7 linked regions of the Homo sapiens genome follow. The protein of the gene in region 6 purifies or fractionates together with the protein of the main gene of each other region. This does not show direct contact. Each region holds a gene or a part of one and is shown on either strand. Other genes may lie near its edges.

Region 1 (3,500 bases), on a different chromosome or scaffold from region 6:
GCTAGGGATGTTTACAAGAGAAGAAAATTTGAGCGTGATTACGGTGTTCAAGTATATCGAAGGTTATTGTATGAAGTCACATAAAGTAGAAGTTAGAGGACATACAGAATTCAAGGCTGCTCTGGGAGTATGAGAATGTGTAAAGGGGACTCAAGAACGAGATTGGACTAGATGACCTTTATGTTCCCTTCAATTCTGAGATCTGTCCCCAGCCAGTATATTGAAATGAGTTACATTTTTCCCTCGGAAGGAATAAAGAATTAATGGCTACAGAACAGAGGTAAGAAGATACACATTTCAATAACATTCTTTTTGATCTTATTTTGTGAACCAATCACTGCAGAAACTGAATCATAACTACTGCAGTCCCAATTAAACCTATATAACTAGAAAATAGGCAGTTACACGATAAGGGAAGGGGGGAAAGGGTGCTTCAGTGGGCCAGGATTCCAGGTGATGGGTAGAGTATGGAGCTCAATAAAGACCACCCTTCCCTTCCAGGGGTCTGTTTGTTTTTTTAATACAGTCATGGCAAACTGACAAATAGTTTTCTAGGAATCTCCCCTGATTTTCATCTTTTTAATAAGTTACTGCAGGTTCCAACATGCAGTAGAATAAAGTGCTTCAAGGTGCCTAGGGGGGACTTCTGAGACTGAATACTTTGTCCAGGTGTTCTCTTTTTCTGTTGCCCTGGTTGACAAGCACAGATGTAGCCGTCAACCCAAATAAGACATTCCCTTAACTTAAAGAGAATCTGTTTCCTTTGCTACTACCAGGACCACCTGATAGTACTTAGCTTCTCTTGAGTATTCCACTGAATGTTTCCAGAGACTACTGATTTTTGTTTGTTTGTTTTGTTTTCAGATGGAGTCTCACTCTGTCACCCAGGCTGGAATGCAGTGGCACGATCCCAGCTCACTGCAACCTCCACCTCCCAAGTTCAAGCTATTCTCGTGTCTCAGCCTCCTGAGTAGCTGGGATTACAGGCATGCGCCACCACACCCAGCTTATTTTTGTATTATTAGCAGAGACAGGGTTTCACCATGTTGGCCAGGCTGGTCTTGAACTCCTGACCTCAAGTGATCTGCCTGCCTCGGTCTCCCAAAGTGCTGGGATTACAGGTGTGAGCCACCGTACCCTGCCAAAGACTACTGATTTTTACATCCCCATTTTCTGCTTACGTGTTTTCCTCCTTTGGCCACTGGGGAAGTGTTGAAAGATTATTTAATGTCTGAAGGTAGCAATGTGGTGGAGGAGTACCAGGCAAGGAAACAGGAGCTTTGGGTTCTGTTCTCCAATGCTGCTCCTCATTTACTTAGGTCCATCACTTCCCCCCTCTAAGCCAAATCTTCAGGCCAAGGGAGATGACCATTGTCAATATCTAGGGCCTTCCAGCTCTACATTCTGTGGTGCCAAAAGAAGATGAAGCTAAGTGGGCCGGGCATGGTGGTTCACACCTGTAATCCCAGCACTTTGGGAGGCCAAGGCGGGTGGATCACAAGGTCAGGAGATCGAGACCATCCTAACACAGTGAAACCCCATCTCTACTAAAAAAAAAAATACAAAAAAAAATTAGCCAGGCATGGTGGCAGGCCCCTGTAGTCCCAGCTACTAGGGAGGCTGAGGCAGGAGAATGGTGTGAACCTGGGAGGCGGAGCTTGCAGTGAGCCGAGATCACGCCACTGCACTCCAGCCTGGGAGACAGAGCGAGACTCCATCTCAAAAAAAAAAAAAAAAAAAAAAAAAAGATGAAACTAAGTGTAACGGCCTGGTAGAGTTCAGGATTCGGGTTCCTTAAAACATCAATCCTGGCCAGGCGCGGTGGCTCACGCCTGTAATCCCAGCACTTTGGGAGGCTGAGGCGGGTGGATCACGAGGTCAGGAGATCAAGACATCCTGGCTAACACGGTGAAACCCCGTCTCTACTAAAAATACAAAAAATTAGCCGGGCGTGGTGGTGGGCACCTGTAGTCCCAGCTACTCGGGAGGCTGAGGCAGGAGAATGGCGTGAACCCAGGAGGCAGAGCTTGCAGTGAGCGGAGATCGTGCCACTGCACTCCAGCCTGGGCGACAGAGCGAGACTCCGTCTCAAAAAACAAAAAAAAAATATCAATCCTAAGAGAGGGAAGGAGGAGACTGAAAGCATAAAGAGGGTAGAAAAGTCATAAAATCCACAGGGATACACAATGGTCTGGATTCTTGCAGTCACAGTGTTACATAGGAAAGCTCACTCTGGGACAACAGCCCTGGAGCTCCTGTAGCTAGATAGGGACAGTGTCACTTGTAATCCCAGCTACTTGGTAGGCAGAGGTTGCAGTGAGCAGAGATCACCCCACTGCACTCCAGCCTGGGCCACAGAGTGAGACTCTGTCTCAAAAAAAAGAAAAACAAAGATGGGCAGTGTCAGGGTGGTTTTTCAGACCCTGAATTGTTGAATAGATGGGGGATCCAGAGCCAACTCAGGCCCCCCTACTCCCAAATGTCATCAAACAGATTGAATTCCTAAGGGCAGATGGGAGCAATGGGACGCCTTGACCTCTCAGTCTCTTCACTTGCAGTCATCATGTGGAACCGTGGCCTGTACCAAAACAGTACCTGATGAAAGCTGCCATTACAGTATACAACTGCACCCCAGGCCTGCCTCATACCAAATCATTCTCCTTCCTTTCCAGGTACGAGTGCTTCCATATCCATTTACCCACCATTGGCAATTTGAAAGGACCATCCAGACCCCCATAGGATCCACATGGAACACCCAGAGGGCTTTCCAAAAGCTGACTACTCCCAAGGTCGTCACCAAGCCAGGCCATATCATTAACCCCATAAAAGCAGAAGACGTGGGCTACCGGTCTTCCTCAAGGTCGGACCTGTCTGTCATACAGAGGAATCCAAAACGAATCACCACACGTCACAAAAAACAGCTGAAGAAATGCTCTGTAGATTGAGTTGCTGGAGGAGTGACAGCCAGGAGCCCTGACTTCACTTCCTTTGGTCCAGTTTTACTCTGATACAGGGTGGATTCCAAAACTGGCTCAGTACATTGCATGTAGTTAAGCCACATTTTAAAAATAAAGGCATTTTTTAATCTATTTACCTGGAGTATATGTTGCATTGTCCCCCAGTGGGATCATTTCGTTCAAGTCAGACACCTTTGGACTCTACAGCATTGCATTTCTCGAGTTGCACTTGTCAGGGCCACCTCCTTTTCTTACCAAGGATTATGTAGTTGGTCCTAAATCGAAATGGAGAAAGTTAACTGTAGTCTGTAACCTTAAATATATCACATCAGATATGATCCACCATTAATAACTGCCAACTTGAAGAGACAGGGTTAATAATGATAAAATATTGTATATTTTAACCTCTGAACCTAGAAAGAGGATGTACAAACTGCAATTGGATTCTGCCCTAGACTGATCCTAAGACCAGGACGGTGCCGAAGCTGGGTTCTGTCCCCACAAGTCTAGCCACAGCCATTTTTTTCACATGTGTGAGCTTCC
Region 2 (4,240 bases), on a different chromosome or scaffold from region 6:
CCTGTAGTTCCAGCTACTCGACTTGGGAGGCTGAGGCACAAGAATCGCTTGAACCTGGGAGGCAGAGGTTGCAGTGAGCCAAGATAGCGCCATTGCACTCCAGCCTCGGTGACAGAGCGAGACTCTGTCTCAAAAAAAAAGAAAGATCACTCACACTAGTTGCAGTGGGAGAATGGATTGAGGCAAGACAGGACTGAGTCCTGGAGTTCCAGGAGTAAGTCACTATAATCCAATCAAGACTGATTTGGTAGCTAAGTCATGTGTCCCTGATGACACAAGTAAGGAATTACCCCCAAAACACAACTCTTCCATATAAAGACCCAGAAACTCCTGAATTTCTTAAAAGTTCTAAAGGCTGAATGGACAAGCCCTTTCTAACCAGTTTTCAACACGCAGCATGAGTCTAATAGCCTGGTTACATCAGCCAAAAGCGTCAGACATAGAACGCCACCCACTCCTTCCAAACTACATACGACCAACAACCTCTGGGCACTCTTCCGAGCTTCTTGTTCATGCTTTATCGCCAAGGCCTAGAAAAGTGAATGCAAACAGTTAAGAACCGGCCCTACATTCTTGCTGTCTCTGCCTCCGAGACTCAGGAGCCACTTTTCAAGAGCCGAGACAACTCGTTAGAGAGGAGCCGTGGCCTGCTCTGGCCGAAAACCCCTTCCTATTAACAGACTGCAACTAGCCCGGAACGACTTTCAATTTGCAGAGTCCAACCATATTCCACAAGACAATCTACCACCTCAAGGTTCACGCGTGGATTCTACACCTTAAATCCTTGGATACTGTCTTTGATTTGGAGATGAGCAAAGAAAGGAAACAAGACAAGAGAAAGTGACAAAATGCTTACCAACCCAGAACAAAGAGTACCTAGGAGGGGCAAAATGTACAAAGGAAAGATGGGACTAAGGAACAGAGAAGTGATATGCAGATGAGAAGAGAATATGGTTTGTGTTCTAGCTACTGTTGCATTTGTCTTATGAATATTAGGAATGTATATGATTAACGTGAGTTGGTTCTATTGCTTAAATATAGAAATAAGAATGAAAGGTGATTTTTCCTTAAAGTAAAAAACTGAAATAGAACATTCTCATGCCAAGTAGTGGAGAAGAGATTTCTAGTTGTCGTAGGGGAGGAGGTGAGCAAAGGCGATACTAAAAGGGAGGCTGATTTTCTGAATCAAACCCGGCAGGGACTGGCTTGGAGTCATTGACACAATTAGTCTATTAGGCTAGTGTAACACTAAATATAGGGACAAGTCTCAGAAGGGAAGAACTACTTACGTCTTATTTGTTCTTTAAACACTCTACATCAGTGATTTTGATAACGACTTGTCATATGTAACAATCTGCCAATAACTGGTTGAGTTAATGTAAAAAAATAATTTTCTAACGGCTGTTTAGTTTCTTCTGTAAAAATCCCTACCCTAATACACTGTATTGAGTATACCATTGTTTGAAGTAACAACAAATTGGAGACAACCCAAATGCCCCCGAATAGATCTAAAAAAGGACAGAACATCGAAAACATCCAAACAATGGCCCATCCAATACTTACCACAGCTCTGTAAAACAAAACGAAACAAAACACAACTTCTGTGTTCTGACATGTAGAGACCAGTAAGATAAAGTGAAAGAATCAAGGAGTTAGAAGGATTTCTATCACCTGTGTGAAAAAAGGGGGAACTAACTAGTTATATTTGCCAGTATTTGCAGAAATTCGGAAAAGATACAAAGGAACAAAAGTGGTTACCTAAGAGGGTAGGGCCTAGGAAGATACCTAAGCGGGATGGGAAGAAATCTTTCACTGGTAACTTTTTATATTTTTAATATCCCAGCCATATGAATATATTACATATTTCATATTATTATTTTTTTTAAGCCTTGAGCTTTCACAAAGAAATGCTCCTGCTGGCCAACTACTTTAAATGTCTTAGAGCAGCACACCCAGCCCTGGCATTCCCCAGTGATCTTTTCCGTCCCACCCCTGGGTTCCCGCAGGCTGTCCCCTGGGTCTAAGAAACTCTTCGACCTTCCTCTCCCTACCTAGTTAACTCCTTTTCTGCTTGCAGGAACACGCGGCAGGTCGCCTCCTCCCCGGTGCACCCGTCTGTATGCAGGTGCGCTTCCCCAGATGAGGGCTAGGACGCACCTCCGGGGTCTCTATTCACACCTGCAGCGGGAGCTTATCATCATCACTCACCGACCAAAAAAAAAAAAGAAAAAAAGGTGGTGGGGTGGAGCGGAGGGGAAGAAGGTCGAATCAGATCACCCCTAGAGGTCTCTCTGCCCTCGCAATCACTCTCAAGTCCTAGAGTACCAAACTTAACTGCAGAGGGAGCACGAAATGGTGGGTATTTTGAAGCGCTAATTTTTAGGGATCCCCTCCCATCCAAAACAGGGATGAATAGTTGAGGAACACCGGAGCGGGGCCCTGGCCCTTCTCGGAACGTTGAGCAGACCTAACATGACGCTGGTCCGTTCAAACGTCGCAGTTGTGGCCCACACAGAGCCCAGTCTGTTCCAGGGGCGCGCCCTGCACCCCTCTGCCTGCCCGAGGTCTTCCCTCCCCTCCGCTCCCCAGAAACGCACCCACTGAGACATGTGCGGGGAGGGGGCACGCTTACTCCCACATCCCGCCCGAGACCCGCGGAGCAGCCAAGACCCGGCCAAAAAGGGGAGGGCGTGGCAGGCAAGGGCCGGGGGCGGGAGCGCGGGCGGCCGCGGACTCACGTACTGGCTGTGGCGGCGCCGCGGGAACCCGGCCGCCAGCGGGACAAAAGCGCGGACCGCACGGCCGGAAGAACCCGCGCCGGCCCTGGGGCACTTCCGCGCCCTCTCTGGGACGCTGGAGGACTGACTCGATGGTCCGGGCCGACGGCGCCGGCGGGAGGGAGGGAGGGGAGCGCCTCCTCGGCTATTTATTGAGGACCAGCTGCAGGGCGCGCGCTCCAGGCGCGGCCAGGAGGCCGTGGGCGGGGCTTTCTGTTTCCGTGCCCATTAGCTTCTGGGGTAGGCTGGGGGAGGGGCACAGGTAATAAAGTAAATACCTGCCTACCTGGTTCCTGAACACGTGATTCATTGCCAGGTGTGGGTGCGGGGACGTTCCCGGAAGTGGGGGCCTGGCGGGAAATGGGGGAATCCGGGAGGGGCGCAGGACAGCGCTGGGCTGGGGACCCATTGCCTTCTCAGCTGGTTGGGGGCTGGCCCGAGAGCACCAGCCCTTCCTGGTCGTCAGCACCAGAAGCGCCCCCGGTTAGGCACTGGGGATGCGGAGTGGGAGCGCGCCCCTGGAGCCGTCCCTGGGACCGGGCCACGCTCCCACCCGGGGCGCCAGCTTGGCAGCGACCTCGCCCCCTGCCCACCCCACCGCCGGTGTCGGCTTCCAAACCCAGGGCCTAAAATGACTTTGAAGACCTTTTTTTTTTTTTTAAATTAATGTTTGTGGGTACATAGTAGGTGTCCCTATTTGTCGAGTACGTGAGATATCTTGATACAGACAGGAATGCAATGCGTAATAATCATATCAGGGTTAATGGCGTGTCCATCACTTCAAGCATTTATCCTTTGTGTTACAAGCAATCAAATTATATTCTTATTTTTAAATATACAACTAAGTTATTGGCTATAGTCAGCCTTTTTTAAAAACAGCAACATCTAAATATTTTTCATATTAAGTTTAAATAATTGCAAAGGGTATATTTTTGGCATGCTGTTAATATTAAGAACAAAATTGCTTTCAAGTGTATCCAATGGAATCTAAATCCCTGAAGATTTGGTATTATCCACTTTTAACAGTCATAAGTTTTACATCTTTTAGGGTTTTTTTCCTTGAACTTTTATGTCCCTCACCGGCTTTTTATTCTACTGTAAAAATATTTTCATTCTATGTGCCTCATTGAATTTTATCCTAGTGTAAAATAGTTCTATGCATTGTTTTATTGTTTATTGTTTATCCTAGCATATATGTCCGTAACGAAAGTAGATTACATTTTTTCTTAGTGTTATTTTCTGGATTATTAGCAAAATTATATAAATATTTCAAAATGTTTACTGTTAATTCTTAGACAAAAAGTGAAGTGCTTTGGAAGCACAACTTGTAATGAGATGGATTTTGTTTTACAGCTCAAATTATTTATATTATTTGAATGAATTTTACATATTGCTGGGGTGAGCCGGTGTTTGGCATCAGCTCGACGCCTATTTTTCATTTTTATACATGTGGGTGCTGAGAC
Region 3 (3,500 bases), on a different chromosome or scaffold from region 6:
TTACTACAAGAAGAAAAATAGTTGAAAGCTGTATTTTTTTTTTTTTGGAGGAAAACAATATCAGCTACACATTAAAAAGTGAAATAATAATAGGTGATATTTATTAAGTTCTTACTCTTCCACACACTATTCTGATGATTAAGCTAATGTCACAAGGTTAGTAATATTGTCCAGACAAATTCTAGGTCTCAAACTAACTACTATGCTATGCCACCTCATTAAGAAATTAAATGTCCTAAGTGGAAAAAAAAATACGTGTGTAAAAATCATGTTATATTACAGGCTACAGTAAAAAAAATTTAGGACTGCAGTATCTTTATAGAAACATCATGAAAGGGAATAACTTATATTTTAATAAAAATATTATTTGCATGTTATATGACTGTTATATGACAACAGTAATGCTGCTCTCAATTTCAGAAGCAAGTCATGAATGATAAATAACACATCCATGGAGCAAACAGAGGTATCTGAAATCATTATAATTATCATTAAAATATTAAATCATGTATTAAATTCTGTAAATGGGCAAAGACAGTATTTCAGTCACTATTGCTGAACCTAGCACAAAGTAGGCAGTCAATGGTATTTGTTAAATTGTAATGAAACACTGATTTAAAACATCAAACCTTTAATAATCTTATTTTCCCTTTTGAATTTAAAAGGACTTTGGAAAAAAACAATTTGGATGGTCAAATATTTTTGTTTGCTTTTTAAAATGCTATACAAAGAAGTGTGAGCTGCCACCTTTTTCTACTGATAAATGTTTACATAATGGATAGAAGTATTCAAAATCATGTATCCAGCCCTCTAGCTACATCAATATTAGATATTTGCCATATCTATGGGAGATTATGGAAGTACTTTTAACCCTAAAAATCATTTCTAAATGCTAGCACTAAATTATTGATTTGCCTTTCCATCTTTTACCTTCTTCATGTATAGAAAATCTTCATGTATGGAAAATCAGAAGCTCCCTAGTAATAATCTCATTATTATTATTTTCTGATGGATCTCATAGACCTTTATTAGAGCCTTCTCTATAGCAATTCTTTACAGTTATTAGGTCATTAGTACATACTTTTCAGTGAGCATTTATGAAGCTGTCTAACATGTGTCAGGATCACATGCCACCTTTCACATATGTGATGCCACCAGCAACAACTCCAAAAGCAAACATATAGTTATATCTCACTACCTGTGGGGGATTGGTTCCAGGACTTCCCCAACTTCTCTGCTGATACCAAAATTCACAGATGCTCAAGTCCCTTACATAAAATGGTGTGGTATTTGCATATAACTTTCACACATTTATGCATATACTTTAAATAATCTCTAGCTTACTTATAAGACCTAATATAATGTAAATACTATGTAAATAGCTGTTATACTGTACTACTTTAAAATGTGATGTTTTATTGTTGTATTATTATTTATTTATTTTTCCTTGAATATTTTTGATCCCAGGTTAATTGACTCCTCTGATACAGGGGACCAACTGTTATTTATAGACAACCCTCCAAATAAATATACAAGGGCAGGGAGAAATGAGACTTAAGTATACATTAGGAAGTAGTAGATGAGGATAAGGTGACAGCTATATTATTTTCTAACTAAAATACTTACTTGGATTTTACATTCCACAACTGCAGGCTTCCTTGTTCACTGCCCAGAAGTATTTTATTCAAGTAGGTACTTGGATGCAAAATTGCAGAAATTTTAAATACTGATTTATCAAAAGTCAACTGCAGGTATTCTTCTACAAAAGTGAAAGTTATAAATATTTTTTATAAAATAGTTTAAAATGTTTTATGTAACCATATATTTATCACTTAAAGTAAGTCTATCACATCAAAGATTTATATGTTAAAATAAACCACAGACTTAGATACTAATCTATAAACATTCCTTGAGAAATAAAATAAATGAGAGGCAACTTGTAAATGTAATTTAATTTAGACTGTCAAAAATTTTCTGTAACTTCTAATAAAAATACTATTAAAAGTTTCATTCACTTTTGAATTACTTTACAGAAAAGGATAATAAAGTTAAAAAAAAAAGATCCTAAGGATTAGCATTCATGTTTCTGTAATTTGATCAACAGACAGGAGTGAATATTCCAAGTGAAGTGCTTATACTTAGCTCTTTCAGGGAACGAAGAGCCAATTATCTGGAAAGTTTGATGGGCCACTCAAAAAATGCCAAAAATAAAAGACACACCTCAGTGAAATAAGAGTACTTCTCACACATTTCCACAAAATAATCTCTAATAAAGGAGAAAAAAAAAACGTATAACCCTGTGGAGTGGGGGGTGGCATCACCAGTGGTCACTTGCTCCAAGATAAAAAAATTCTCTGAAATCTTTGGTTACATTCAAAATTTCTATGTTTGAATTCTGCTTTTCACTTTACAGTTCCTCCATGATTAAAACAATGTTCCACTCTATTTTCCAGTAAATTTGTGTATCAAAGAAGGTACATTTCACTTAATCTTTAGGTTCACATACTATCTGGCACACTACTGTACAATCCCAGGGTATGGGTACCACAGTTTAGGATGTACAGGTATAGGTGAAAATTATATAAACTTTACTTTGAATGCTATTTTAAGAGATCCTTGCCTTTATTCGTCAGTCACTACAAATGGCTCCCTGAATATACTGGTTCAAGAGAGTCTGCTGGAATGTAAGAACCAGATCCTGTAACCTAATAAAAGCCCTTTTAACTTCTATCTGCACAGGGAATACTTTTGGAATTCTGTTCCCTCCCTCTACTTGAGCAAAAACAAAACAAGAAAAGGGTTACTAATCTGAAACAAGAACCTGGAATAATTCCCAGAAATGCAATCTTCAGGATATTTACTGAAAAAAAAAAAAAAAAAAAAACAAAAAAAAAAACAAAAAAAAACCAAGAGGCAATATAAGCTAAAAATGTAACCAGATTAAAGAACTTAAAAGATTCAATTCATGATGAACCCAGTATTTTATTGAGGAAAGGTGTAGATATCCTAGGGATAAATTCTTCATGTTTAAAGATACATAATCCCATAAACATAGCCACTGTCTAAGCTATCACAGTTGAAAGAAACTGACTCATATCCCTAGGAAATGGATGTATATTTTCCTTCAGATTACAAGATCAAGTTTACTATTACAGTCTCCTTTACTAAAAGGTGAAAATACAAACCAAGAATTACTCAGGTATGAAAATACATCAATATTCACTCCACAGGGAAAACAATACAACAAATCATTAAAGTTGGAGAACTGCAATGGAAAATACATTAGTTGAGGTAAGCACATTAAACAGTTTATAAGTAGTTAACTTGCTAAAGTTGTTTATCTCTTTCTTACTTAGAACTTTTTTTCTTACACGTTAAAGATTTTTGATTTTTTTAATTTCTTACTATTTACAGGCAAAATCTCTGGCATAGATGTTTACATAGATTTTAAATTTTAATTAAACACATACTACCCTAAGATAAAGCAAATAAATGAGTTA
Region 4 (3,500 bases), about 34 Mb from region 6:
CTCATGCGACTCTCTTACCAGTGGCTACTCTAATGGTGGTTTGTCTGAACGTCAGAAAGAGTATGTCAGAATACCAAAGACACTCTGCTTCTGCTGTAAGCAGATTCATAGCTGCTTCTTCCTGTTTGGCTAGAGCCAGTTCTGGACCTGAAATCTTACTTCCCCCCTCTCTCTCTGCTTGGTACCACAGGTGAGTACTCCATCCACCTCTGGCATTAGCCCTGTGCACTCATTCAGCCAACTCTGTTGGGACTGTCTCTTCCTATGGGATTTGCTTACCCAGGAGTTAGATGGCAAGCATAGGGAATGTCTGGCACACAGAATATATGGAATTAGTGTTAGGATTAGGATTTTAGGTACTCCACAGTCAGAAAGACAGGAAAATATGAAGAGCTGTAAGTCTAGGGCAGGTTATAGGGGAGAATGCAAATTTTGATAGCTACATCATCAAGGATTAAAATTTTGGTGTTAGTTATGTCTCTGTGACATGTAGTCATCTAGTCTTAATGCTTATGCCTTCAAGAAGTTCCTTTTCATTTCCCTCCCTTTATGCCTAATGCTCAGTCTCTTGCACTAGTTTCCTAAGTAGTCTTCTTTTATATCTACCCTGTACACTGTTGTTAAAACTGGTATTGAAATGCTCTTTTACTCATAGTACTTTATTGCTGCTCCAAAATTTTTAATGGCAGCCTGCTTCCCTAGAAATGATGACATTGAATGTAGATTGTGCTTGGAGCCCCTGGGATTGGCAAATGTTTTTTTAAGAAGCCAGATAGAAAATATTTTAGGATTCCAAGCCATGTGATATCTTAACTACTCAACTTGGCCCTTGTGGGAAAGCAGCCTTAAATAATACCTATAGAAATGGGGGTGGCTGTTCTCAGTAAAGCCCTACTTACAAAAACAGGTGGCCGGCTCAGGCTGTAGTTTGCAAACCCTGAGAACTTGACAGCAAAACGAAAAGAGAGAATAGTAGTTAGGACAGAACAGAATCGCGTAAAGTTTTTTCCATATAGGTGAGCTCTGATAATGTTTGTAGGTAGAAAGAAAGAAACTTGTGAAGGAGAGACTAAACCTGTTTGATGGATTGGGTTGGGGGCCAGGTTAGAGATAGGATCAGGTGTATGTGTTGTTGAATTATTCCTAAAAAGGAAGAGAGACACTAGTAATTGCTAAATCATCAAATATTTGTAGAGGTAGAGGAGAAAGAATAAATTCAGATGGATTGAGGCAGATGAGAGAACATATGGGGATGTGTTTGATTTTCTTAGGAAAATGAAAGCAGAAGTGGGAGAGGGCGGGGGATAATTGGAAGCTTAGAATGTGGAAGGGATGTTTAAGTGCTGTGGGGAATACTTTGAGGCAGTGGTTACCAGTATTTTGAAGATGACAACCTGTGTAACTTTGAAACAATTTGTGGACCACCCATGGTTGTAGTTATGATTTTAGTATTCAATTGAGAAAATGCATATTAGAAAGAAGCTACTACTCTTACATGACTTTGTGTTTTATTAATCACAACATTGATATGTGAGAAATAGTGTTTATAATGCGTTGCTCTAGGTACCCATTAAGGTAACTAATTCTGCAGTTTCCCAGGAGGCTGAAGGCTCTTAAGTTGGAAATCATTGCACTTGAGTGAATCAACAGTAAGAGAATAAAGGATTGTTTAGAAGTAGTATTCAGTCAAAATTAAAATGATGTGAACTTGTAGTGAACTCACTTTGAAGGATTCCATAACTTTATCCAGTAATACTTGTCAGCTTGGAGCAAGATGACAGAAACAAAATGATCTTGGGTTAGGCGTAACACTATAGAAGGCCAAAATAAGCATTTAGCTTATTCTTTCTCTAAATTACCTTTTCCTGAGATCACACCTAGTTTCATTAATCACTTCTGTATTTATGGTCATCAAATTGTCATCTCCTTAACCATTTTGTTGATTTCAAATTCTCTGTGTACATCTACAGAATATTTCCATTTGGGTATCTTACTGTCTCACATTTGACATACTGAAAAGAAAGCTTGATAACTTGAAAAAAAAGCTTATTATCTTTCCTTTGAAACAACTCCCTGCTGCTTTCTGTTTGCACTAGAGAATCTACAGACATGCTAAAGTTGATGGCACAATGTGGATAGGTTGGGAAAAACATGAATTAGGTGCTGGATTTAGTGAAGAAATCGAACTGTGCCATATTTGGCAAATGATGGTGATGAGAAAGTAGAGAGAACCTTGGATTTGTTTTCTGTTTTAGCCAAATAGAATTAAATTCTGAATTTTTGGAAATTAATTTACTTGACTCTTATAAACTCTTACAAATACTCAAATATATATTCTCCATTTTATTTCCTTGATCCACTAATGCTGTAATCCTATTTCCAATTAATAAACAACATATTTAGTACTGATGCCCATTTAAGTGTGTTGTTACTCTGTAATCACTATCCCTCTCATAAAACTATCTGGGGATAGATTGGTTCATATAATCTTTAGAGAGAAGATTTTTCTCATTTCTGTAAAAGTGTAGAGAAAATCTCAAGTACTTTAGAAATGCCTATTGTTAAACAGTATCCATAATTATTTTGTGTTCTGTTTCCTTGACCTCACTCAAGAAAAAAACAAAATATCTCCCAGAATTATGGCATACTGAAAACTGCAGTATGACATAAAAGAAAAGACTACAGGCTCCTTGAGGTTGGGTCTTTTCCATACTCATAAACCTGCTTATAATAATATTTAGAGTAATTTCTTGGCACATACATTACCTGCTTTCTCATCAATTGCTAAATCATCAAACATTTATTGAGCATCTCCTCTATGTAGGGTATAAGTAATGCTGAGGTAGTACTCGTGACTTACAGTGGTAAAAGACTTAAGTTTTAGGCCGAGAGCAGTGGCTCACGCCTGTAATCCCAACACTTTGAGAGGCCGAGGCGGGTGGATCACCTGAGGTCAGGAGTTCGAGACCAGCCTGGCCAACATGGCGAAACCCCATCTCTACTAAAAATAAATAAATTAGCTGGGAGTGGTGGCAGGCACCTGTAATCCCAGCTACTTGGGAGGCTAAGGCAGGAGAATTGCTTGACCCAGGAGGTGGAGGTTGCAGTGAGCTGAGATTGCACCATTGCACTCCAGCCTGGGTGATGGAGTGAGACTGTCTCAAAAAAAAAAAAAAAAAGATAAGTTTTAGCCTTGAATGACATAGTGTTTCACTAAAGAGACAGAATATAGGAAGCTAAGTAATTTACGGAATTCTCTCCTTTTTTTTTTTTTTTTTTTTTTTTTTTTTTATAGCAGTGGGGTCTTACCCTATAAATAGAGCAAGGCTAGTTTGGAACTCCTGGGCTTGTGTGGTCCTCCCGCCTTAGCCTTCAGAGTAGCTGGGAGTGCAGGTGTGAACACAGCTTTGAAATCTCAATTTTTTTTTTTTTTTTTTGAGACAGAGTCTCGCTCTGTCGCCCAGGCTGGAGTGCAATGGCATGATCTCGGCTCACTGCAA
Region 5 (3,500 bases), on a different chromosome or scaffold from region 6:
CACCTACAAAAGCATCCTAGAAAACAAGTGCTTTATCTAAATGGATTATTTCTTTTGTTCCTCCTAGAAGATGGCTACGGAGAAACAAAGGATTTACAGGAAAACTTTTCATAAACATTCATAAGTAGCCTTTAAAAAAGAACTGTTCAATTTCTATTTAAGACACTGGCTTGGTTCCCATAAACAAATGTCGCACTAAGAGTAAAACTTATATTTAAATAATTACAACTGTTCCTTATAATTTAATCAATCAGAAAGCAGTATCTTAAGAATTTTAACGAAGGATCCTCATGCCATAAACCAAAAAACTTCATTGCCTTCCTTTGAGACTTAATCAGGACTTTGGCAACTTTTAAAACACAGCATCAGAAAACCAGTAAATAAGATTAAAGTTGTTAACCTCTTAGAGCTCCCAAAGTTATGAAAAATATGAAAATTCATTGGCACTTATTCTGTGTTTAAGTATGGGGGAAAGGAGGAAGAGTTCATTGCAAAGAAACCCAGTCTAAGTTTCTTAGTTTTCACTTTCTCTCAGTCCCCAAAAGGCAACAATAAGCACATAGTAAGACAATGTAATAGAAGACCCTCCACTGGGAGTAAACTTACCTGTAATGTTTTCTCGTCTTTAAGGTCCAATCCAAACACATTATGCCGCTTCACCTTCAAGAAATCAGCATCTTCTTCCTCCTCATCTCTGTCCAAGAACTGTGTAGGAACTTCCTTGATCTTCTGTGCCTCACTGGTGTTAGGAAGAGATGGGGCTTGAGATCCTTTTGCTTTTGCCAGTTTCTCTTCCATTTCTTCTTCATCGTCTTCTTCTTCTTCCTGTTCTTCATTACCAGTATCATTATCCTGTCTGTGCTCTGTCCCTTCGAGTCTTTTTCCACCTTTTTGAAGGATGGACATTTTCTCATTGAAGTAGGCTCTAAATTCTTCCACTTCGTCATTGGTGAGGGAGGGAGCCCTTGGCTCAATTACTTTATCGGCTTGGCTCCTTACCAATTCTTTGGTGGGTTGTTTCTGCATTTTCTGAAGAAATCTTACGCGTGGTGCCACAGCAAGACCAAGAGACCTTAAATATGGAAAAACGTGAAAACAGTCATCTCAACACTGATGATATGTTTATAGGTGTCATAGAAGAGTTTCTCAAGAGCAGAGATTCCTAGAGCTTTTTTAAAGAAAATGTTCCTGTGAGATACAACTCAATACTAACAGGTTAGTTGATCCAAAAAGTAAGGCAAAATACACTCAACACCTGTCAGAAAACATTTTAGACACTATTTTTTCTTTAAGAGGGTAACATGGAATAAGATAAAGAGCACTGGACCAGAAACAAGATAACAGTTCAAGTACTAGACCTGCCAATTTCCAATTCAACCCTCTCAGCTTCAGCTTCCTTATAACATGGGGATAACAGTACCTGCCAGGCCTAACTCACAGTTGCTGTAAGGATCCAATTAACTAACTACATGAGAGTACCTCATAAAATGTTAAGTACTAAATAAACCAGAGAAGACATGACCATGAAAGGACAAAACAGTTCTCTACAGAGAAAGAACTGGAATGTGGTCCCCATCTCCCTTCCTAAAAGAGAATATGGCACAATCATTGCTATAAAAATGGATTTTATAAACCAAACACCAAAAAAAGAAATTAAAAAATATTGTTTTCTCCATCAATGATCAATATTCAATTTATTATCATGTCTTTCCCAGCTTGGATCAAAGCTAATAGCTTCATTAAGTTCTCAATGATCGAAGGGAAATAAAATCTTAGATTTTATCAAGGATTGCTCTGAATAAACAGTAACATCATAACATGGACCCACTGCTCTTTTCCTATCTGACATGGTTCAAAGAAACTGAGAGATGTAATGCTGAGAAGCATGGATTCAGAAATAAGACTGCTGGGGTTCAAAATCTGGCTGCCACTTACTAGCTGTGAGATCTTACGAATATGATTTAATCTTTCCATACCGGAGCTTTCCCATTTGCAAAACGGGATGCTAAGAGTACCTACCTCACAGGGTTGTTGTAAGAATAAATTAGTTGACAGATGTAATGCTGTTAAAACTAGTGCCTGGCATATAGGGAACTAATGAGAACTTGATGTCATCACCATCACCACTGTTAGGGTTAGGATCACAAACTCATCCAGAGAATTTCACTCAATGTATTGCACTTACATTTTTATGTCTCTCTCAGCTACCAAAACTGAGTTTATTGAAGGCAGCAGTACATCTTATACATCTACAATTTAACATCTAGTACAATGACCTGCACATATTAGGTATTCAAAACATGTTTCTTTAGTAAAATTTTAAAACCTTTAATATATCTTACATACACAGCACTGCTTTAGGTATCAAAGGCTTCTAAAGGAAATTACATACCTCAAGGAAACAACATAGCTAAATATCTAAAAAAATTAAAATACCAAACTCAACTATACTAAAATTTGTTCTCAACGTTAATTTTCTGCCTTCTCTAAGCATCACAAAAAGCAAAAGTCATCAACTACCAATAGATAAAATTTACTGGAATCTATTGCAACAAATGGTCCCCTAAATATGGCCTACAGTGTTAAAGACCTGTGCCTTTCCTATCTGCTAATATCAAGGTAGGTCAAATCAGAAAACCATGATAAAAATTAACAGGGAGCCAAAAGTCCACTAATAACCTAAGCCATGGATCATATTCAGAAATAATAAAACTAGGAACTGGTATTTAAACATATGAGCAAACAACAACATGTTATCCATGGCATGTGGCTTTCCATCTGTCACTTAAATGGAAAGTCAGCAGCCCTACACTGCTATAAAGCAATTTAAAAGGTTCAAAAATGTAATAACTGACATATTACCTGTTATGGTAAACATACAATCTAACAGAGAATAGAAAACGACAGCTCACTTAGATATATGTTGTAGTTAGACTCAGTTTAAAGGTAAAGGCACTCAAATTCCTAAGAGCAAGCCAAACATACAGACCTTGCCTTGTAATCACATATTTCACCATAGTCTGGGAAATTTCATGCTGATATTCAAAGTATGATTATCTCAAAGGTGCTTCTATAAGATTGTGCCAATGTTTTTACCACTCCCACAGTAAGAGCCCACTGAAGAATAAACATTCCTTCTTTATAGGTCAAAAGGTTTAAAAAAAAAAAAAAAACCCGGCCAGGCACAGTGGCTCACACCTGTAATGCCAGCACTTTGGAAGGCTGAGGTGGGGGGATCACTTGAGCCCAGGAGTTTGAAACCAGCCTGGGCAACATGGCGAAACCCTATCTCTACAAAAATTACAAAAAAACTAGCCAGCCATGGTAGCATGCACCTGTAGTCCCAGCTACTCAGGAGGCTGAGATGAGAGGATCACCTAAGCCTGGGAGGTCAAGGATGCAGTGAGCCATGATCACACCACTGCACTATGGCCTGGGTGACAGAATAAGACCCTGTCTCCTCCCCCGCAAAAAATCCCTCAAATACTAAGCCAAAACAA
Region 6 (3,500 bases):
TTGTCTGCTTTGCTTCAGTTCTTTCTTCTTCTTTTTGAAGTCATCCCATTTGGGCTTCTTGGCTGCTGATTCTAGTTATTATAGAAATTATTTTCAATTACATTTAACATTCTAAGTGTCATACACCAATACAAATTAGGTAAAAAGGGCAATCACTAATCAGGATCAATGCTCATTCTGGAAGCTAAAAAGGGGAACATACCATCCCCCATATATACTTCACTTTGCTTTCTGAGCAGTTTGTACATTTTACATTTGGTTAAATTTAAATCTTCATTAATTCTTCTAACAGGATACCTATTAAGAGAAAAGGACACTAAAAGAATTACAAAAGTAACTAGAATATTTTAAATATCTTTTTCAATTGTGAAATAAAATTCTACTTTTTAAGATTAAGATCATTGGACTTTAGGTATAATTAACTTCCAATGAAAACAAAAATTAGTCCAAATGAAAACAAGAAAAACAACTTCGAAAATTCACTGTTCTGAGTGCTGTTGTATATTAAGTCACTTATTTCTTACAACAACTCGAAGAGGTAGGTATTAATATTACCCTCTCTTCCATGGTGGGGAAAAAGAACAAAGCAGTTGAGCTCTCTATCTGAGGCCACACAACCTGCAATGGTAGAATTAGGACTCAAACCTAGAAACAACCCTCTGCTGTCTTAGTCATGACAATGAACAACCAAAATTTCCAAGTTCGCCACAAACAGAGTGATACTATAAAAGTCGAATATCTATCACCACTTTTTTGTCTTCAAAATCCAAGTAACTTACCAATTGAACTAATGATGCCAAACAAAGAACAACTTACTAAAATGGGTATTATTTACATGAGTATCTGGCACAGAATCTTTTGGGGGAATTAGTCACTTCTAACTATCTCCCTGTCTCTATAAAAAACTGGGAAAAATGCAAAAAAAAAAAAAAAGAAAAGAAAAACCCTGTAAAACCAAAACCTAGCTATAGCCACTGATAATTTTCCCCTTGCTTCTTCTCCATACATGTTTTAATCTTTAAAAACTCAAAAAGTGGCCAGCTGCAGTGGCTCACGCCTATAATCCTAGCACTTTGGAAGGCTGAAGAAGAAGAATCATTTGAGGCCAGGAGTTTGAGATCAGCCTGGGCGAAATAGTGAGACCCCGTCTCCACAAAAAATTAAATTAAAAAATTAGCCGGGTGTGGTGGTACATGCCTGCAGTCCCAGCTACTTGGGAGGCTGAGGCAGGAGGATCACTTGAGTCCAGGAGGTTGAGGATGCAGTGAGCCATCATCACGCCATTGCACTTCACAGTCTGGGCAACAAAGTGAGACCCTCAAAAAAGAAAAAAATTCAGAATCTGCCTTCACTCAATATGATTAGATTATGTTTGCTCATGAAATTAACATTCCTCAAGAACATAATTTTTAATGGCTATCCAATATACTACAATGTATTTATTATTCCTTTATTGTTTACTTATATATTCATTCCCTGTCTGGTAATACAAAAGATTATAGGCAACAGAGGGCATATTTACCATTATATTAATATGGTATCCTCTACTATACAATAGAGGATAGGAACTGATCCAGGGCTAATTTAATTCCATAAATATTTGGGTACCCTTGACATATGTCATGCTAGGCTGCAGTACATTTATCAGTGTGGGGGTTGTCTAGTAACCAATCTCTCATGTTATTTTATCAGTCTAGTTACTGATACAAAAATATGAGAAAATGAAATCCAGAGTCCCATTTTGAGATATCAGGAACATATCTCCCATAGCAAAAGAAATCATAACTTTCCTCATATCAATGTGAGAAATTAATGTATATGTGTTTAAAATGCAGGCATCAAAAACTCCAGTAGAGAAAGAAAGATTTGGGATCTAGTAGAGAGGTTAGGAAAGAGAAAGTAGAAAAGAGAGCTGGAAGAGAAACTTCTGGCAATTGGGGAGGAGGAAGATGAGGGAGAAAGAAAAAATGAAAAGAGAAGATCAAGACTGGAGCATGAAAAGATCCTGGAGCCCTAATGGGAAACGATGGCATTTCCCCTCCTTCCTCTCTCCCTACCTCCTTGTCTTAAGGCTGCTGTCCCTCTGGTAAGCAGCCCTTAGGCAGGGTAAAAAGCAAGCACCAGGACTAGGGGATGGCACTGAGAAAACCATCCCCAGTGGTCTCAGCTGGCAACAAAGGAGCAGTGTTAAGACACGCTGTGCTGGAGAAAAAGAGAATAAAAGGCACCAGAAAAATTCTCAGGATGTTGCAAAGAAAGTAATGATATGACAATCCACATAACCTGGAAACTGCTTGTTTGAGATCAGTGCAGGACAAAGCACGACAGCGGAATGTTATAAAATAGAGAGCAAAGTTCTGGGTTAGAAATGACCCACTGAACATCGTTGACAGAGATGGGCAGTTTGTTTCAACAGACAAGCACGAGACCTGCCAATACTTCCAATCAGTGAGCAACTTGTCCTGAATCAATTAAAATCAAATCTGTCATGTGTGCACAACACCTTCTCTGGAACTACTATGGATCTGCGCCATCAGAGGGATTTATTGTATTAGACTGGCCTAAGCTCTGTGAAGGCAGGGTCTCTATGTTTCTTGCTCACCAAAGCATCCTTAACCAAGGCTGACACTTAGCTGGGGACAGACTGATTCTTTAAAGCCAGATTCTATGATTAGTTGGGGCCTGTATCCTTACTGATTATTTTTGTGTGTGTGCGTGTGTGTGTGTGTGTTTTGCCCTATCTCCTGGTACAATGCATAGAAAACTCAAATACTCGTTCGATGAACGAATAAATTTTAGCTTATAAAAAGAAATGTTTTATTGAGGTTCCACTGTATAAAGCCATTATAATTTAACTTAACTCCATGGCTAAGGTAATTCAGAAAAGGGCTAAGAAATAAGAAACTCTAAGCACCAGAGGAAAATTGTGAGCATGAAAGATGCTTTGTTGTTTATTTAAGCCACCTACCTGTCCCAAAATGTTACCTGCCAAGGAATAAGAATGTGAGGTTTCTAACGCACCTCCAGAGTCCCTGTGCACAATCGTTCAGGCACTAGTTCAGGCATGAACGAACCAGTACTTACCATCGCTTCTACCATCTGGCTGGAATTTTCTCTTCTTGTTGAATTTATTTGCCGGCTGGAATTTGTTCTTTGGTGATTTGTCCCCTTGCTGCTTATTCTTGAACTGCTTTACACCCTTTTTCCCAAGTTTTGTGATACTTTTCTCAAAGTTCCTAGATGTGACTTTAGGTCCACCTTCTTTAGCAACTTTCCTTGTTGGAAATGTCTTTGAAGAACCAGAATCTAGTGACAATAATAATTATAAGTTCAATGATTCTGGGCCCAAATCTCTTTTATCTATTGGATTATATCCATTACAGAAAATTATACTTTTTAATCCCAATACCATGTCTTACTCTCAAATATGCAACATATAGCCTTTTGAGTAGAACTGGATTTAAACAATCAAAACAAAAATAAAAAATTCTTTCCTTGAT
Region 7 (4,070 bases), about 130 Mb from region 6:
TGTTAGATACAGCATAATTTAAGCTGTTAGTCTTTCTAAATCCAGTATATTAGCTACCCATCTCAAGTTCAGGCTACTGGCAAGTCTCATCAGCATATCCATCATTCTCATTCACGACATCAATGAAAATGTAGATCTAGGCCTGGCTGGCTCACGCCTGTAATCCCAGCACTGTGGGAGGCCGAGGTGGGCAGATCACAAGGTCGGGAGATGGAGACCATCCTGGCTAACACACAGTGAAACCCCATCTCTATTAAAAATTCAAAAAAATTAGCCGGGTGTGGTGGTGGGCACCTGTAGTCCCAGCTACTCAAGAGGCTGAGGCAGGAGAATGGTGTGAACTCAGGAGGCAGAGCTTGCAGTGAGCAGAGATCGCGCCACTGCACTCCAGCCTGGGAGACAGAGCGAGACTCCATCTCAAAAAAACAAAACAAAACAAAACAAAAAACGTAGATCTAGACAAGGCCACCGCAGACACCTGTCATCACTGCATTAATTAATCCCCTTTTGATAACCATAAAACTAGGTAGCCTATATGTATTTACTCAATGCTTCTTATGTGTTAGTTACCAGGCTCTGCAGAGGACACAAGCACCCCACTGACCTCCTGATGTAGCAATCTATTATCCAAAATGGAGCCAAAACTACTTTATACTGTTGGCATTTATTAAGTGCTTCTATGGGCCAGACAACGTATAGTCTTCATGTATACTATCTCAATGAATCCTTACAATAGTCTTCTATGGAGTAGAAATTATTGTTCTCATTTTATAGATAGGAAAAGTGAGAATCAGAAAGATTAAGTGACTTGCTCCAAGGTCACAGAGCTAGTGTGCAGCAAGGGCAGCATCCGAATCCCAAGTGTATCCTATTCCAAATCCCATGCTCCCAGTGGCTCTTCTATCCTTCTCCCCGCTCCACCCAGATGCAGCTACACTTGGCTAGCTGGACTCCTTACTGCCAAACATCTAAATCCTAAAGTTTGATGATCACTTTATGATTTTAATCAGTCTTTCTGTCCTGTAGTCCTCTTTTCTAAGAGACAAATCAACTATCCTAGAAACCAGTTTTCAGTTACTGCTTAAGTTAATTCTAGGGCATCTTACCCCTCTCTAGCAATGGGATTATATCAATGAAACCGATTTTCCTATCCCCCTCCATTGCATGGGGATGAAAATCTGTCCCATTTTTGAAAGCTCTTCAAAAAAACTCCTAGTTGCCAGTCCTCATTCCTGAAACAAACGAACCTTCCTCATGGCGACCAAAAGAGTTAAACTCAAAAATATCTGAAGAGACTTATTCTGAGCCAAGTATGAGTGACCATGGCCCATGATCCAGCCCTCGAGAGGTCCTGAGAACATGTGCCCAAGGTGGTCGGGGTGCAGCTTTTTTTTTTTTTTTTGAGACGGAGTCTCGTTCTGTTGCCCAGGCTGGAGTGCAATGGCATGATCTCGGCTCACTGCAAGCTCCGCCTCCTGGGTTCACGCCATTCTCCTGCCTCAGCCTCCCGAGTAGCTGGGACTACAGGCGCCCACCACCACGCCCAGCTAATTTTTTGTATTTTTAGTAGAGACGGGGGTTTCATCTTGTTAGCCAGGATGGTCTCGATCTCCTGACCTCGTGATCCGCCTGCCTCGGCCTCCCAAAGTGCTGGGATTACAGGCGTGAGCCACCGCGCCCGGCCGCGGCTTGGTTTTATACATTCTAGAGAGGCATGAGACATCAAATACATTTCAGAAATACACTGGTTTTGTCCAGAAAGGTGGGACAACTCAAAGCGGGGGCTTCCAGGCTATAGGTAAATTTAAACATTTTCTAGTTGACGGTTGAGTTTGTCTAAACACCTGGGATGGATACAAAGAAAATGCTCAGGTTAAGATAAAAGATTGTGGAGACCAAGGTTCTTTTCAAGTCTTTAGTGGCTGCCCTTAGAGACAACAGACAAGTGTTTCCTATTCAGATCTTTGAAAGGTGGTAGACTCTTAATCTCTTTAGGATTGGGAGGGCCTGGAAGAAAAAGATCTAGCTATGTTAATAGAGATTCTTTGCAGATGCAAATGTCCACCCCGCCCGCCCCCCCCAAAGAACAGCTTTGCAAAGCCATTTCAAAATGTGGCAAAGAAACATGTTTAGGGGTAATATTTTAACTTTCTTCTTTGTCACATAATGTTAGGCCAGAGCCAGTTTGGAAAGTAAGTCACGATATATAGGGTTAAATGAAAGCCATCTGATGAGAATTTATGGTTTGTAGGGCATGACTCTTCCCAGACAGGAATGTGGGCAAGATAAAAAAAAAAATCAGAGCTTAGTCCGCACTCAGTCGAGGAAACTGGCTTAGAGAAGTTAAGCTTTGGCCTGGGACTTGCGCCGGAACTTCAGGTCCTACCTTCCACGGGAAACAGCCTCTAATTCCTTCCTTTACTTTTCTAGGCGCAGGAGCCAGCTCCCCGCCCCTCCACACCGCTCCACTCCCCGCTTCCAGGCGCATCCCTGCGGGTGGTGTTCCGGTTAGAGACACGTGTTTCGGCGCAACTTGTCCCGAAGCTGCCCGGTGTCTTTCTCCCGCTTAACTCCGTGAATGACTCGAAACCCGACTCCAAGGCACGGCTGCAGCTCGCGGCGCGCCCACAGCCGGGCCGCGGGTGGGGACGGAGCTGAAGCCGGGTCAGAACTCACCCGACTCGCCTGGGCTGGGGGACGTCTGGAGAACGTCCTGGGGTTGTCGAAGAGCGAACCGTCGGCGGCTGCCATGGTCTGCGTGGGTGACGCGTGGTGCAGCAGCGAGCCCGGTGCGCAGACTGCTGGGCCCGGGACCCCACGTGGGACGCGCGAGGACCCTGCGCCACCGCCCCTTCCGGGTCCGGAACGGCTCCAGCTGTACGGACTCGTCCCGAGGGGAGCCGGGGACGGCGGCACCGGGCGGGTAGGGACAAGACTACCGCGCGTGCCCCCGCCTGGTGGCAGCCCCTCTCTGCGTCCCTCGCGGCCTGGCAAAATTACATTCGGCCGAGAGTTCACGCTGGGGAAGCTCTCTGAATGCCTCTGAGAAGCGAGATCCGGCGCCATCTCACCGACGAGCCTCCCCTTTACCGCCCCGTGCGTTTCCTCAGCACTTTAGGAACTAAAGCCTGTCTGGGTAGCTCCCTAACAGGCTCTGGAGCTCAATCCCTGGGCAGGGAAAAGGGGGTCCTCGGGGCTCCCCGCTCGCTGTCCTTTTTCTGGACAGGCAGTTCCTTGGCCACCTGGTAGGGCCGCGTTGCCTGGCAACGGCGGGGTCCTTCTTGGCTCGGCGGCGCTCGGGGCCTGAGGGGAGAAAACCGCCGCGGAGGGCGCTGGGGGTGGCGGCGGCGGTCCGGGAGGTGGTCGCGCGACTGCGTGGAGCGCCAGGGCGTCCGACCTCTGCACCTGAGAGAAGATGAACACGGCCGACCAGGCCCGGGTGGGGCCCGCGGACGACGGGCCTGCGCCGTCTGGGGAGGAGGAGGGAGAGGGGGGCGGCGAGGCGGGCGGGAAGGAGCCAGCAGCGGACGCGGCCCCGGGGCCCAGCGCTGCATTCCGCCTCATGGTGACTCGGCGGGAGCCGGCCGTGAAGCTGCAGTATGCGGTGAGCGGCCTGGAACCGCTGGCTTGGTCCGAGGACCACCGCGTGTCTGTGTCCACGGCCCGCAGCATCGCTGTGCTGGAGCTCATCTGCGACGTGCACAACCCGGGCCAGGACCTGGTTATCCACCGCACCTCGGTGCCCGCACCGCTCAACAGCTGTCTCCTCAAAGTAAGTCATCCCCCGCCATCCCTGGGGTCTTCCCCTGTCCCCCTCTCGCGGCCGCATCATCCGTCCCAGGGGAATCCGATCCCACACTCTGTCCGGGGATTTCCCTCTTCGCACCGAGCGCTGGGGATTTATTAAGCAGCCAGGGTTACCACAGCTTAAAAAAAAAAAAAGAAAAGCTCTGCAGCTGTCTGCACCCTGTTTCCCCAGGTCACCCGCCGCCGCAAACACAGGTACACACCCAGGGGGCTTCCCGGAGTTGAGTCCCAGGAACCCCTCCTTCGCCCCTCCGTCGGGCCCG

What was found.
Region 1: the proteins of PUM3 (region 6) and UTP14A fractionate together in Homo sapiens (co-fractionation; one large-scale study listed by BioGRID). This does not show direct contact.
Region 2: the proteins of PUM3 (region 6) and ZFP62 purify together in Homo sapiens (affinity purification with mass spectrometry; 2 studies listed by BioGRID and IntAct, with this or other methods). This does not show direct contact.
Region 3: the proteins of PUM3 (region 6) and WDR36 fractionate together in Homo sapiens (co-fractionation; one large-scale study listed by BioGRID). This does not show direct contact.
Region 4: the proteins of PUM3 (region 6) and ZCCHC7 purify together in Homo sapiens (affinity purification with mass spectrometry; 2 studies listed by BioGRID and IntAct, with this or other methods). This does not show direct contact.
Region 5: the proteins of PUM3 (region 6) and DDX10 fractionate together in Homo sapiens (co-fractionation; one large-scale study listed by BioGRID). This does not show direct contact.
Region 7: the proteins of PUM3 (region 6) and DDX31 purify together in Homo sapiens (affinity purification with mass spectrometry; 2 studies listed by BioGRID and IntAct, with this or other methods). This does not show direct contact.

What each region holds. Positions count from the first base shown.
Region 1 is NC_000023.11:129,926,664-129,930,163, forward strand, and holds the end of UTP14A (U3 small nucleolar RNA-associated protein 14 homolog A), read left to right. Parts: intron 1-2,672; coding exon 2,673-2,945; 3' UTR 2,946-3,089; downstream 3,090-3,500. UniProt on the Homo sapiens protein: May be required for ribosome biogenesis.
Region 2 is NC_000005.10:180,858,477-180,862,716, forward strand, and holds the start of ZFP62 (zinc finger protein 62 homolog), read right to left. Parts: upstream 2,801-4,240; 5' UTR 2,744-2,800; coding exon 2,743-2,743; exon of another isoform or gene 2,634-2,742; coding exon of another isoform or gene 2,633-2,633; exon of another isoform or gene 2,598-2,632; intron 2,204-2,597; exon of another isoform or gene 1,616-2,203; coding exon of another isoform or gene 1,564-1,615; intron 1-1,563. UniProt on the Homo sapiens protein: May play a role in differentiating skeletal muscle.
Region 3 is NC_000005.10:111,098,848-111,102,347, reverse strand, and holds part of WDR36 (WD repeat-containing protein 36), read right to left. Parts: intron 1,760-3,500; coding exon 1,627-1,759; intron 4-1,626; coding exon 1-3. UniProt on the Homo sapiens protein: Part of the small subunit (SSU) processome, first precursor of the small eukaryotic ribosomal subunit.
Region 4 is NC_000009.12:37,127,074-37,130,573, forward strand, and holds part of ZCCHC7 (zinc finger CCHC domain-containing protein 7), read left to right. Parts: intron 1-3,500.
Region 5 is NC_000011.10:108,720,569-108,724,068, reverse strand, and holds part of DDX10 (probable ATP-dependent RNA helicase DDX10), read right to left. Parts: intron 1,073-3,500; coding exon 607-1,072; intron 1-606. UniProt on the Homo sapiens protein: Putative ATP-dependent RNA helicase that plays various role in innate immunity or inflammation. Plays a role in the enhancement of AIM2-induced inflammasome activation by interacting with AIM2 and stabilizing its protein level.
Region 6 is NC_000009.12:2,834,096-2,837,595, forward strand, and holds part of PUM3 (pumilio homolog 3), read right to left. Parts: intron 3,307-3,500; coding exon 3,085-3,306; intron 72-3,084; coding exon 1-71. UniProt on the Homo sapiens protein: Inhibits the poly(ADP-ribosyl)ation activity of PARP1 and the degradation of PARP1 by CASP3 following genotoxic stress. Binds to double-stranded RNA or DNA without sequence specificity. Involved in development of the eye and of primordial germ cells.
Region 7 is NC_000009.12:132,667,184-132,671,253, forward strand, and holds the start of DDX31 (ATP-dependent DNA helicase DDX31), read right to left. Parts: upstream 2,801-4,070; 5' UTR 2,752-2,800; coding exon 2,677-2,751; intron 2,491-2,676; exon of another isoform or gene 2,489-2,490; coding exon of another isoform or gene 2,387-2,488; intron 1-2,386. Other genes in the region: GTF3C4 (general transcription factor 3C polypeptide 4), read left to right, coding at 3,416-3,772. UniProt on the Homo sapiens protein: May have DNA helicase activity and RNA helicase activity. Probably have ssDNA and RNA dependent ATPase activity. Plays a role in ribosome biogenesis and TP53/p53 regulation through its interaction with NPM1.